3 linked regions of the Homo sapiens genome follow. The protein of the gene in region 2 interacts with the protein of the main gene of each other region in a pairwise test. Each region holds a gene or a part of one and is shown on either strand. Other genes may lie near its edges. The genes, in order: CEP44, PLEKHF2 and BCAS3.

Region 1 (3,751 bases), on a different chromosome or scaffold from region 2:
CGTCACTGTCTATAATGTACTGGTCATCCGGACAGAATACCAACAAGTAAATTGCAAACTATACAACACTATAGACCAAAGACCTAACATGCATATACAGAACATGAGACCCAACCATAGCAAAATAATCATTCTTCTCAAAAGGACATGAAACATTCTCTATAACTGATCACAGCCTAGGTCACAAAACAAGTCTTAACAAATTTAAGAAGACTAAAAACATTCTAAACATTTTGTCTGATCACGAGGGAATGAAACTAGAAATCAATAATAGAAAGAAAATGGAAAAATTCACAAATACAGGGGAATTAAATAACATACTATTAAATAATACTGGGTCAAAGAATAAATCAAAACAGAAATTATAAAATATCTCAAGACAAACAATAATAAAAACACAGTATACCCAAACATATAGGATGCAGTAAAAGCAGAATAAGAGAAGTGTTTATAGCAATAAATTCATTAAGAAGAAGAAAGAGGCAGGACACAGTGGCTCACGCCTATAATCCTAGCACTTTTGGGGGCTGAGGCAGGCGGGTCACTAGGTCAAGAGATTGAGACCATCCTGGCTAACATGGTGAAACCCCATCTCTACAAAAAATACAAAAATTAGCTGAGCATGGTGGTGCGTGGCTCTAGTCCCACCTACTTGGGACTCCCACCTACTCGGGAGGCTGAGGCAGGAGAATCACTTGAACCCGGGAGGCGGAGGTTGCAGTAAGCCAAGATCATCACGCCACTGCACTCCAGCCTGGTGACAGAGCAAGACTCTGTCTCAAAGAAAAAAAAAAAAAGGTCTCAATAAAACAACCTAACTTTACACCTCAAGGAACTAGAAAAAGAACAAACTAAATCCAAAATTAGCAGAAGGAAGAAAATAATAAAGATTAGATTAGAAATAAATGAAATAGAAAATTGAAAAACAATTTTAAAAATTGACAAAACTAAAAGTTCCTCTTTTGAAAAGACAAACTAAATCAACAAATCCTTGGCTAGACTTTAAAAATAGAAGACTCAAACAAAATCAGAAATGAAAGAGGACACAATTGATCCCACAGATATAAAAAGTATCATAAGGGACTATTATGAACAATTATATGCCATCAAATTGGACAATCTAAAAAAAAATGGGTAAATTCCTAGAAAAATATAACTTACCAAGACTGAATCAAGAAGAAATAGAATGCTTGAATAGACAAATAACAAAAAAGGAGATTGATGGAATAATCAAAAAATTCCCAACAAAGAAAAGCCAAGAGCCAGATACATTCTAGCAAACATTTAAAGAAAAATTAATACAAAACCTTATTAAACATATCTAAAAAAAAAAAAAAAAGAAGAGGGAACACTTCCAAAGTCATTCTGAGGCCTGCATCACCCTGATACCAAAGCCAGACAAATACACTACAAGAAAACTACAGTCTAATACATTTGATGAATATAGACGTAAAAATCCTCAATGAAATGTTAGCAAACCAAACACAACAGCACATTAAAAGAATCATATACCATGACCAAGTAGGATTTTTCATTGTGATGCAAGGATGGTTCAACATATGACAACCAACCAATGTAATATACTGCATTAATAGAATGAAGGATAAAACTCACATGGGCATCTGCACAGATGCAGAAAAAGCACTTGACAAAATTCGATACTCTTTTGTGATAAAAACTCCCAATAAACTAGGTATGGAAGAACCTTATAGCAAATTAGGTAAAGGAAAAACAAAATAAAGTCCATTTATGAGAAGCCCACAGCTAAGATACTTAAAGATAAAAAACTGAAAGCTTTCCCCATAAGATGAGGAACAAGGCAAGGTTGCCTACTTTAGCCTCTCCTATTCAGCGTAGTATTTTAAGTCCTAGCCAGAATAACTAGGTAAGAAAAATAAATTAAAAACATCCAAATAAAAAGAGAAGAGGTACAATATCTGTTTGCAGATGACATGATCTTAGATGTAGAAAACCTTAGGGACCCCAACAAAAATGTGAGAATAAACAAATTTGCCTTTAAAAAAGAAGGAAATCCTGCCATTTGCAACAACATGGATGAACCTGAAGGACATTATGCTAAGTGAAATAAGCTAAACACAAAAAGACAAATACTGTATTATCTCAATGTATGTGAAATCTAAAATAGTCAAATACATGCAAGCAGAGAATAGAATGGTGGTTGTAAGGGAACATGGGGAGAACAAAATGGGAAGCTGTTGTTCAAAGGGTACAAAGTTTCAGTTAGGCAAAATAAATAAGATCTGCAGGTACAACCCAGTGTCTGTGATTAGCAATATTGTATTCTTAAAATTTTGCTAAGAAGTTAGATCTAATGTTAAGTGCTCTTATCACAAAACGTGAAAAAAAGATGAGTAGAAGGAAACTTTTCAAGGTGATGGCATTGATTTCTTGTAGTAATAATGGTTGGATGGTTTCACAATATCTACTTATCTCCAAACAGAAACTGTATACATTAAATGTCTATAGCTTTCTGTATGTCAATCATACCGCAATAAACAGGTTAAAAAATGAAGCAGCACCAGATCCCTGTACACACACCTCTAAAAATAGTCCCTTTGTATATAAAGCACCCCAAATTTTCTCCTTCTGAGTGTGTTATCTACTTAATTAAGGGCCTGGACTACAAAATCCAAGTTTTCACTTTTCACCCAAAGTTTTCCATTCTCACACACAGAATTTTCTCGTTCAGTTAGCAGATGCAAGAAGAGAATTTCAGATATTAGCTTTAAATACTACATTCTTGTCTATACCTGGTATTACTAGCTCTACCTAATTCATTTTCTTTCTTACCATGAAATTATAGAAACAAAAAGGTTACTGCAAAACACTTATAAACATATTGTCAGCATGAAATAATTATAATTATCCTATAATAAATTGTACCTTTTGAACAATTTTGGTCACTTTTTGATCTTCGTGTATTAATAAGTTAATACATGTAAATCATAACCAGAAGGGAAAATCAAAACATTCCACTTACCAAGTAATGATGAAAAAGAGAATGTGTGTGATTTAGTTAATTTAAAATATTATAGAAAGCAACAAATAACAGAAATGGTATCTGGGATAAAGTTCCTGGACCTGGATAAGGATGTTTGGTGATATCTCAAGCTGTTCAACACCTTTGCACATGCCATTTCTTCAAGCTTGAAGAGATACAGAGCAACTCCTTCCCTCTCCCATTCTCCATCTGGCTAATACCCCTCGGCATCCTGCTTAAATGTCACCACCTCAAATAAGTCTTAGATCCCAAACTAATTAATCCCCCTCATTAATTTTCTCTAATAGACCCAGTTCTTTTCCTTCTTGGTACTTATCATAATAAAGAACCAAAATCTGTGCCAAGGGTCCAAAATAGCACTCTACCTGAAAAGCAACACTTAATCCTTGTCATTTCTCAGCTCTATTTCAGAATGAGCTGGGTTACTACCTGGGGTCCCATAACGACCTATATCCCAATGGCCTAGAAATAGAAGGAATACACCGATTCCCCCTCTTGATGCTGATTCTTCACTTTAATAAGCCACCACCATTGTCAGTCAAGATGTTTTGCACTGTCATCGGTCCCAAACTCCTGCTGGTTAGCCAGCTGTCTACTTCCAAGAAGAAAAGGTGAACACAGAAAAAAAGGCAAGAAATTCAAAATATCTATGCTTTTTACAGAAAGAGTAAATGGTACAATTATTTTGGAAAACTTACTGGTGATACCTACTAAAAGCTGACATACATG
Region 2 (3,751 bases):
AGACAGCAGCATGTTCATTACTGGGTGTCTTCCCACTTTTGGAGAGTAAATCAGTAACACATTTATTTATATGATTCATCCATTCTGATTTCTCCGTAGCAGTGGCAGCATAAACTGCAAAAGATTTAGTTGGTGTCTTGATTAGCCATCCATTCCTTAAGTCTCCCTCATCTTTGATGGAATCAATAGTGACATTTTCCAGGGGAATAATATGTTGTTTGTTATATTTTTTCTTCTGGATGACAATATTGCCATATACAAGAATATCATTAAACAAGAAAAACTGCCTTGCTTTGGGCTTTTTCCTGCACAACTTAGTCAATACTCCTTCTCCAATAAGAACTCGTCCAGGTATAGTTAAAGGTTGACCAGCTGCTCCAAAACAGTTTTCCACTATACTTATACGTCTAGTATTTGCTTCACTGTTTGCCAAGCGATCCACCATCTTTCACTAATAGCCTTTTAAAAAAAAGAAAAAGAAATTAGCACATATAAATTATAAATTCCTATAAGTTAATTATATATAAATTAAGCTAACAAATCATTGCTTTTACACAAAGGCAAAATGTTCTAAAATTCTTTCCCTCTAAGATAATCACTAAGCACATCAAAAGGGCTAACATTTCTCAATTTTTAAAATGATGAAAAACACTTATTTATCATCTCCACGTAGCACCATACTAGTTAAGCAGGTATTTGTAAAAGTATAAACTTCCTACAGACATAATTGAATGAAAGACGATTGGATAATTAACATAACTTATCTCTGCAAAATAATAAACCCCATTCAATGAAATGTAATCTCAATGGGATTCTGAACAATAGGGAACAAAATGTTACATAAACTAAGAAAAATGACTACAATTTTCCAAGTAAGCTATTACCACTGAGCTACAGCCTTAATTCTCTCACCTGGATTACTAGAACTGTTTCCCAACATGTGTCCTGGCCTTCAATCTTGCCCCCAAATCAATCTTTGGGCAGTGATCTCTAAAACCCTAATTTGACCCCATCATTGCTCAAAATGATCCCTTAACCTATTAAATACAGGGTGTTCACGGCCTTTCATTACTTGGTTCTTGTCACTCCAACCTCACCATAAGTCAGTCTTCACCTCAAATGTCATATTCTAAGAACACTCTACTACTTGTAGTCCATTTCACTGTTGTTCCTTTTACTACTTACTACTGCAGCTAACTCATATTCATCCTTCGAGACTTAGTTTAGGTAATCGTGTCTCCTCCAGGAAGCCTCCTTTAAACTCCCATGCTAGACTAAAACCCTTCCTGTGAGCTATCCATATTCCATGTATATTCTAGCTTCACTTTTACCAAAGGACTGAAATCTGTTCCTCCAGAGACCATGCAGAACCTAAAAAGCAGAGATCATCTGATAGTTTTGTTTGAAACTGATACGGTTTGACACAGAAAAGGTACTAAAAAATGTTAATAACATTTTAACAATGTGCAAAACACCCTATTAATCTAAACATTTAATCTCTAAGTCCAATATTGACTTCACTCAAGTCCCAGAGTTGTATCCTATTTCAAACCTACTAAACTAATACTACTATACTATAACCAAGTCATATTAAAGAACAACAAGCCTTGAGAAGAAGACCATTTAAAGTTTAAAGACTAACAGCATAGTATGTAAGTTCCAGTATTCAGCTCAAAAACTGACACTATAGCCCTTCTTGGCCTTCATTATAAAGGACACTAGAATTCTGGTTATTTCTGAATTCTGTCTCCCTGCAAATCTTGGGTCCTTATAAAGCCCTCTTGTCCTCCACAAAAGTAGGATGTAGCAGGCCTAAAAGTTGTTCCCAAGAATTAATAGGATAATGCATGGTTCCAAACTGGAAAGGTTTCTAATTAGGACTAATATGCCAGCCAATTAAAAGCCTACTATCCTATGCACAAGTACATCACAGAAAAGGAAATAAAAACGGCTAATAAACAGGAAAAGAGGTTTCAATCTCTATCATAATTAAAGAAATTATATTAAACATTAGTATATTTTTCACTTAGATTAATAAAAATTTTTAAATTTACTAAGATTCAGTACTCATAAAGGTATAGGGAAATAGGTACCCTTGTACACTACAGAGAATATGTGTATTCACCAATCTAATTAAATAAATTTCACTCACGTGCATAGAGATATATACAAGGATAATCAGCACAGCATTGTTTATAACAGGAAAACAATTGGAAAAGCTCCAAATAGCCATCAAGAGGAACTGATTGAAAAAGTTATGACACACCCTTAATCATATATCTTGAGAATAAGACAGATCTAAAACCAGTGACAAGGGAAATGCTCAAGATCTTTAGGTGGGGAAAAGAGATGAACTTCCTGATCTCATTTTTATTTCAAATAAATACCACATTTCATCACATCTAAGGTGCTATAGATTTTAAGACATATTTATGTGCAACTCATAAAGAGAAAAATGTTGCCAATTAAACCACAGCATACCGTTGATTATAAGACCAATTTCAAATACATATAGTAAAAAATGTTTATCTTTAGACTCAATGGAATACATATTTCAAAAGCATAATCATAGACATCTGTATCTGTAAGCACACACACAACATAAAGTTAAAAAATATATACTATACTATCAACAATGGTAATTTATCTCTGGAAAGTATAATTATGGATCATTTTTTCATACTTTACATTATATTCAAGCATTCCACAAGTATTTGTCAGGCACTTAGGATCTAGGTGCAGGAAAAGTAAAAATAAACACCACAGGCGATCATACTTGAGTATGTGACAACAGATAAAAATTTTAAAAAATAATAAATTAAACAATACAGGCAAGGTCCCTGCTCTTCAGGGTTTACATTCTAGTTGGAGAGAAGGAAAGAGAAAACAAAATTGAAATCTAGTACTAATCAATGCTATGATTTTTTTTTTAAAGTGATTTTTAAAAGAAACTGAGAGCTATTCAGACTACATGGTCAGGAAAGGCCTTTCTACAATGTTGTCATTTCAGCTGTACTAGATGGACAGACATAAGAAGGGGTAAGGATAGGGGAGAATATTCCAGACAAAAGGAGTAACTGCAAAGGCCCTAAAACAGGAAAAGACATTGGCACTTTAAAAAAAAAACTGAAAGGATCTATTTCTCTCCACCTGAATCAACTACTGAGTCCACCCATTTGAACATATCGTTATTAACTCATATACAACACAAACAGATTTCCTATTATTGCTACTATGAGAATTAATACTATCATAAATTTGTACTGTGCTTTTCATATTATTTTCTGATTTGAACTGTTTGAAATGCCTATGAAGTTACTAGAGAAGTTTTTATTGTCCCCCAAAGAAGCATCTAATAATATTAGCTGAACTGTGAGCTGATGAAGAAATTAAGGCACAAAGATATTTAATAATGTAAAAGCAAAACTTAACCTGGAATGAACTCTACTCATAGGGAGTCCAACCAATGTGCTGAGCACTTTGCACTTATTACTGTATTTCCTCCTCACAGCAACCTTATGATACATGCACTATTAGCTCCATTTTATGGATGAGTAAACAGCCAAAGAGGGGTTAAATAACTTGCCCAAGGCTGTCACAGCAGAACAAGCCTCAAATCTGATTTCTCTGTGATGTTACAGTATGTTATGGTACACTAATTGTTCCTAAGAACTCCACTGAATCTACAAGAACTCTAAGGAAGCTATTAACTAACCTCTGGACCTTCATTGCAAACCCTAAAAATACTGAA
Region 3 (3,751 bases), on a different chromosome or scaffold from region 2:
GGATGGGGGTGGGAGGTGAAGAACCAGAGCTAGTGGTTGCTTCGTCTTCCTTGGTTTTGCTCTCTGCAATGTGGGTATATAGCTCCCACCACCCAGGGGACCACATCCCTGGAGAGTGCAAGGTCACAATGAGGTGACTGGGTCTAGCCACTTGCCTGGAAGCCACTCCTCCTCTCCTGCCCTACTTTGGGGCCTGGAGAACAAGCTCTTTTAAAGCTTCTCCCACTGACCAGAATCTCCACACCTCTAAGGGGGGAGGTGGCTGGGGACACTTCCCTCATTTCCTGCCACAGAGCCCCCAGCACTCTCTTTCGGGCCCTGGCAGGTTCCTGATGGACTTCCCCAACAGGTCCACCTCAACCGCAGGACAGCTGCTCAGACCTGGAGGTCTTGGGAGTGGGGGAGGAGGGCAGCAGCCAGGAGTTGGGCCACTGAGTCAGAAGGTCCAAGGGCATCCCTGAAAACTGCAGTCTGTTTCCCTGTCCTCCTCCAGCAACCCACCTGCATGGGGTCCCATCTGGCACTGCATGGGCCGTAGGTCCCCAGCCCTCCCACTTCCTAAAACTGTTCTTCATGTTGAACCTGTGACTCCTCTCCCCCTCCCCCACTCTGAACGGGGTCTTGGCCCCCTCTGTCACAGCAGATCCATCTCTGGGACCCCCAAGACAGATTGGTCCCCAGCCCCTACACATGCATGTCACTGTCCTCCTTGACTGCAAACTCCCCCTCCTCACGGTGTGCCCCTGCGCCTCCTGACACCTCTCCACCTGCTTGCAGAGATCAGTGTACTTCTCAATCGTTGTCCATATCTTTTCCAAAAAGATTCCTCAATGCTTTTCTTTTCAAAAGGGAAAAAAAAAGGAAAAAAAAAACAATGCCAACAGCCCAGCGTCCGTGAGCAACCCAACAGTAACAAAGCATGCGTTCGGGATGGAGGAAGGTAAGGCCACACGTTTCCATTTGCCGCTTGCTCGTAGGGCTGGGCGGCCGGGATGACTTGGAGGGGGGAATCTGAGCAGCCCTCCTCCCCTCCACTTCCCACACACACCCCTGCCTGCAGGGGGAGGAGCAGAAGGGGTCTGAGAGGAGGCGTGGAGAAAAGCGCCCACAAAGCTGCCCCGGGGCCAGCAGGCCCCCGATTCTTTCAGTTAGTCTGTGTTGAAGAATGGGCCCCCACCTCCCCTTACCACATCATTCATTCATTCATTCATTCATTCATTCATTCATTCATTCATGCTAGAAATGTTTAGGGCACCCATGATTTTCCAGGCCACTAGGGATACAGAGTTAAGGCACAGAACCCCCCCGAGGGGGTCTCCCCTAGATGAGACACATGGGACGATGAGGGGGCCTGGGCTAGGAGTCAGCACAGCGCAGGGTAGGGTCTGGCAGGCTCTGCTCGGGGGACAGGACGGGCTCACAGAGGAGTGGACACTCGTGCTAAGCTTTGGAAGATGAGTAGGTGTTCTGGGGCTTTGTAGAGCAAGTTACATGAACACAGGCCCAGAGGCCTAGAACCACCTGGATGGGTCCAAACACCACACAGCTTCATCACTTTTGTGTCTCAGACATAATAACGGGTATCACTAGTGAGGGGTTGGCGGCAGGTCATGGAGGGCCATTTCACAGTGCTGGGGAGTTCAGACCTTGCCCTGGGAACTGTTAGGAGTGGCTGAAGGCTTTTACGCAGAGGAAAAGCAAGATGAGGGCTGTGCTGTACATAGCCCACTCTGGCTTTGGCACAGGGTGGGTGACCTGGAGTCAGGAGACTGAGGCGCACAGGGCAGGCTTAGCCAGGGCAGAGGCAGAGGAGGGAGAAGTTCAGCAGAGCCTTGGTTACCTTACCCTGGGATGCGGGGGCGAGGGAGAACGCTGCCCCCATCCTTCTTACCCGGGTCTAACTGGCAAAGGGAAAATGCGAGCAAGGCGCTCAGGTTGTCCCTGGCCCCCAAGAACAGGACATTCATCTTGTAAGCCCCTGGGTGGCTTTCCCTGCACTGTGGTGTGATGGGCTGGGGTGCATCCACGAAGACTCATTGGTGGGACCACCGAGGCTGCTGGGGTATTTGCTGGGGGCCTATGCCAAGGGACGGTGGGGGTGCCATGCCTGGGCCCGGGCTCCCGTTTCCTGGCTTCCTTGGCAGTGTGGATGTGGAGGCATTTTGCATCAAGGCCGTTAAAGCTGCCCCTGAGCTGTAAAAAGGGGCCAGCCTTCCCCATCCTGGTGGCCCTGCCTGCTCCTTCCTCGGGGGCTTTCTTCCTTAGGCCTGGCGGCCCGATCCTAAGGAAGCCCCTGCTTTTCTTGCGCCTGCCGGTGCTCTTCTCCCGCCCGCCTGGCCCTGCTGTCAGCGCCCCCTAGTGCCGGGCCGGCCGCGCATGAGGGCGGTGGGACAGATCGCCCACAACTCCTCGGCTTGCTTTTGGGGAAATAAGGCAACAGAGGGGTCTCTTGGAGTCTGGAGCTTCCATGTAAAATCCCCAGGGTCTACTCTTGGCTTTACCACCCTCTCCATCTCATGGCACGATGGCCTGTCCCCCCAGATTAGGGTGATACTGAAGGAGGAGCAGGAGAAAAAGATCCTATCTGCCTTGTTTTCTATCCATATCCAGATAGCTCTTGACTTTCCCAGGCAGCCAATGTCCCCTGGAGGTCAGGGACCATAGTCAGGCCCTCGGTCCCTGTCCACAGTCCCATCCCCCTACTTTCCCCAATTTGCCAAGAAGCCCTGGTGTCCCAGTGAACTGTCCCACCGAGACCCCGGCGACAGACTCGGCTGATGGATCCCAAGGGCCCCTCCCCTCCCCAGGCCCAGGTGCCCGCCTCCTCCCCACTCCACTCTGTGGCTGCTGCAGGCCTGCAGGGAGTCGGGGTCAGTGGTTCGTTGCTGGCTGGCTGGTGTTGGCCAGCCCAGGAGTGAAGGCCATGACCCCTTCATTCCCTAACCAGAGCCGGCTGTACTGCGCGTGTGGTGGCAGGGGGCCTGGGAGCGGTTGCAGGATGAAGACCAAGGTCTCAAGCCAGACCAGACGAGTGCAACGTTTTTGCACATCTTGCTGTTTCAAGTGACTGCTTTGAGGTCCTGCACTCCTGGGTGGACAGGCCAGACTCCTTCAGTCACAGGCAGGCATCCCTTGGAGAAGGAAAGGTTGCAGGTCTACATATCTTGGCTTGGGGCAGGCTCCAGAGACTGCCCGGTGTGTGTGTGCCCATATGTCAGAGCCCCCGGGGGAGACTGAAAGGGAATCGGAACTGACCACCTTCAAAAAGCCAAGAAGTAATTGGTTCTTCCTTGCACTCAGCAAGCAGGGAATTCCATTCCCAACCCACCTACCCCAGGACCTGACTTGGGTCAAGAGATGGTAGGACAATTGAGCGGCCCACAGCTGAATTAGATGGATCAAGCTGCCATATCTGAGGTGGCAACATGGATGTGCAGGGCCAGGGAGGCAGAGGAGGAGGAGGGCGGGACTCCCTGCCTGCCCTTCAGGTTGATGCTGAGGGGCCTCCAGGAGACTTGGGGCCTAAGAGGAAAGGAGAAAGGAGGCACTTCAGGCAGACAGGGACCCTCTCTTCATTGGAGCAGGCCCCTCTCAAACCAGGCATCCCCTCCCAGGGAAACAGGACACTTGGCAGGAGGTGCCAAAGATGAGCCAAGACCTGGCCAGCAGATGGACTGTGTGGGTGAGCATGAGTGAATGAGTGAGTGGCAAAGCCAGGCAGAAGCTCTAGGCACAGGCAGGGCAGGAGAGA

Evidence for each region.
Region 1: the proteins of PLEKHF2 (region 2) and CEP44 interact in binary tests that used the Homo sapiens proteins (3 or more experiments, as listed by UniProt).
Region 3: the proteins of PLEKHF2 (region 2) and BCAS3 interact in binary tests that used the Homo sapiens proteins (3 or more experiments, as listed by UniProt).

The regions. Positions count from the first base shown.
Region 1 is NC_000004.12:174,286,884-174,290,634, reverse strand, and holds part of CEP44 (centrosomal protein of 44 kDa), read right to left. Parts: intron 1-3,751. UniProt on the Homo sapiens protein: Centriole-enriched microtubule-binding protein involved in centriole biogenesis. In collaboration with CEP295 and POC1B, is required for the centriole-to-centrosome conversion by ensuring the formation of bona fide centriole wall.
Region 2 is NC_000008.11:95,150,739-95,154,489, reverse strand, and holds part of PLEKHF2 (pleckstrin homology domain-containing family F member 2), read right to left. Parts: intron 460-3,751; 5' UTR 446-459; coding exon 1-445. UniProt on the Homo sapiens protein: May play a role in early endosome fusion upstream of RAB5, hence regulating receptor trafficking and fluid-phase transport. Enhances cellular sensitivity to TNF-induced apoptosis.
Region 3 is NC_000017.11:61,387,769-61,391,519, forward strand, and holds part of BCAS3 (BCAS3 microtubule associated cell migration factor), read left to right. Parts: intron 1-849; coding exon of another isoform or gene 850-940; intron 941-3,751. UniProt on the Homo sapiens protein: Plays a role in angiogenesis. Participates in the regulation of cell polarity and directional endothelial cell migration by mediating both the activation and recruitment of CDC42 and the reorganization of the actin cytoskeleton at the cell leading edge.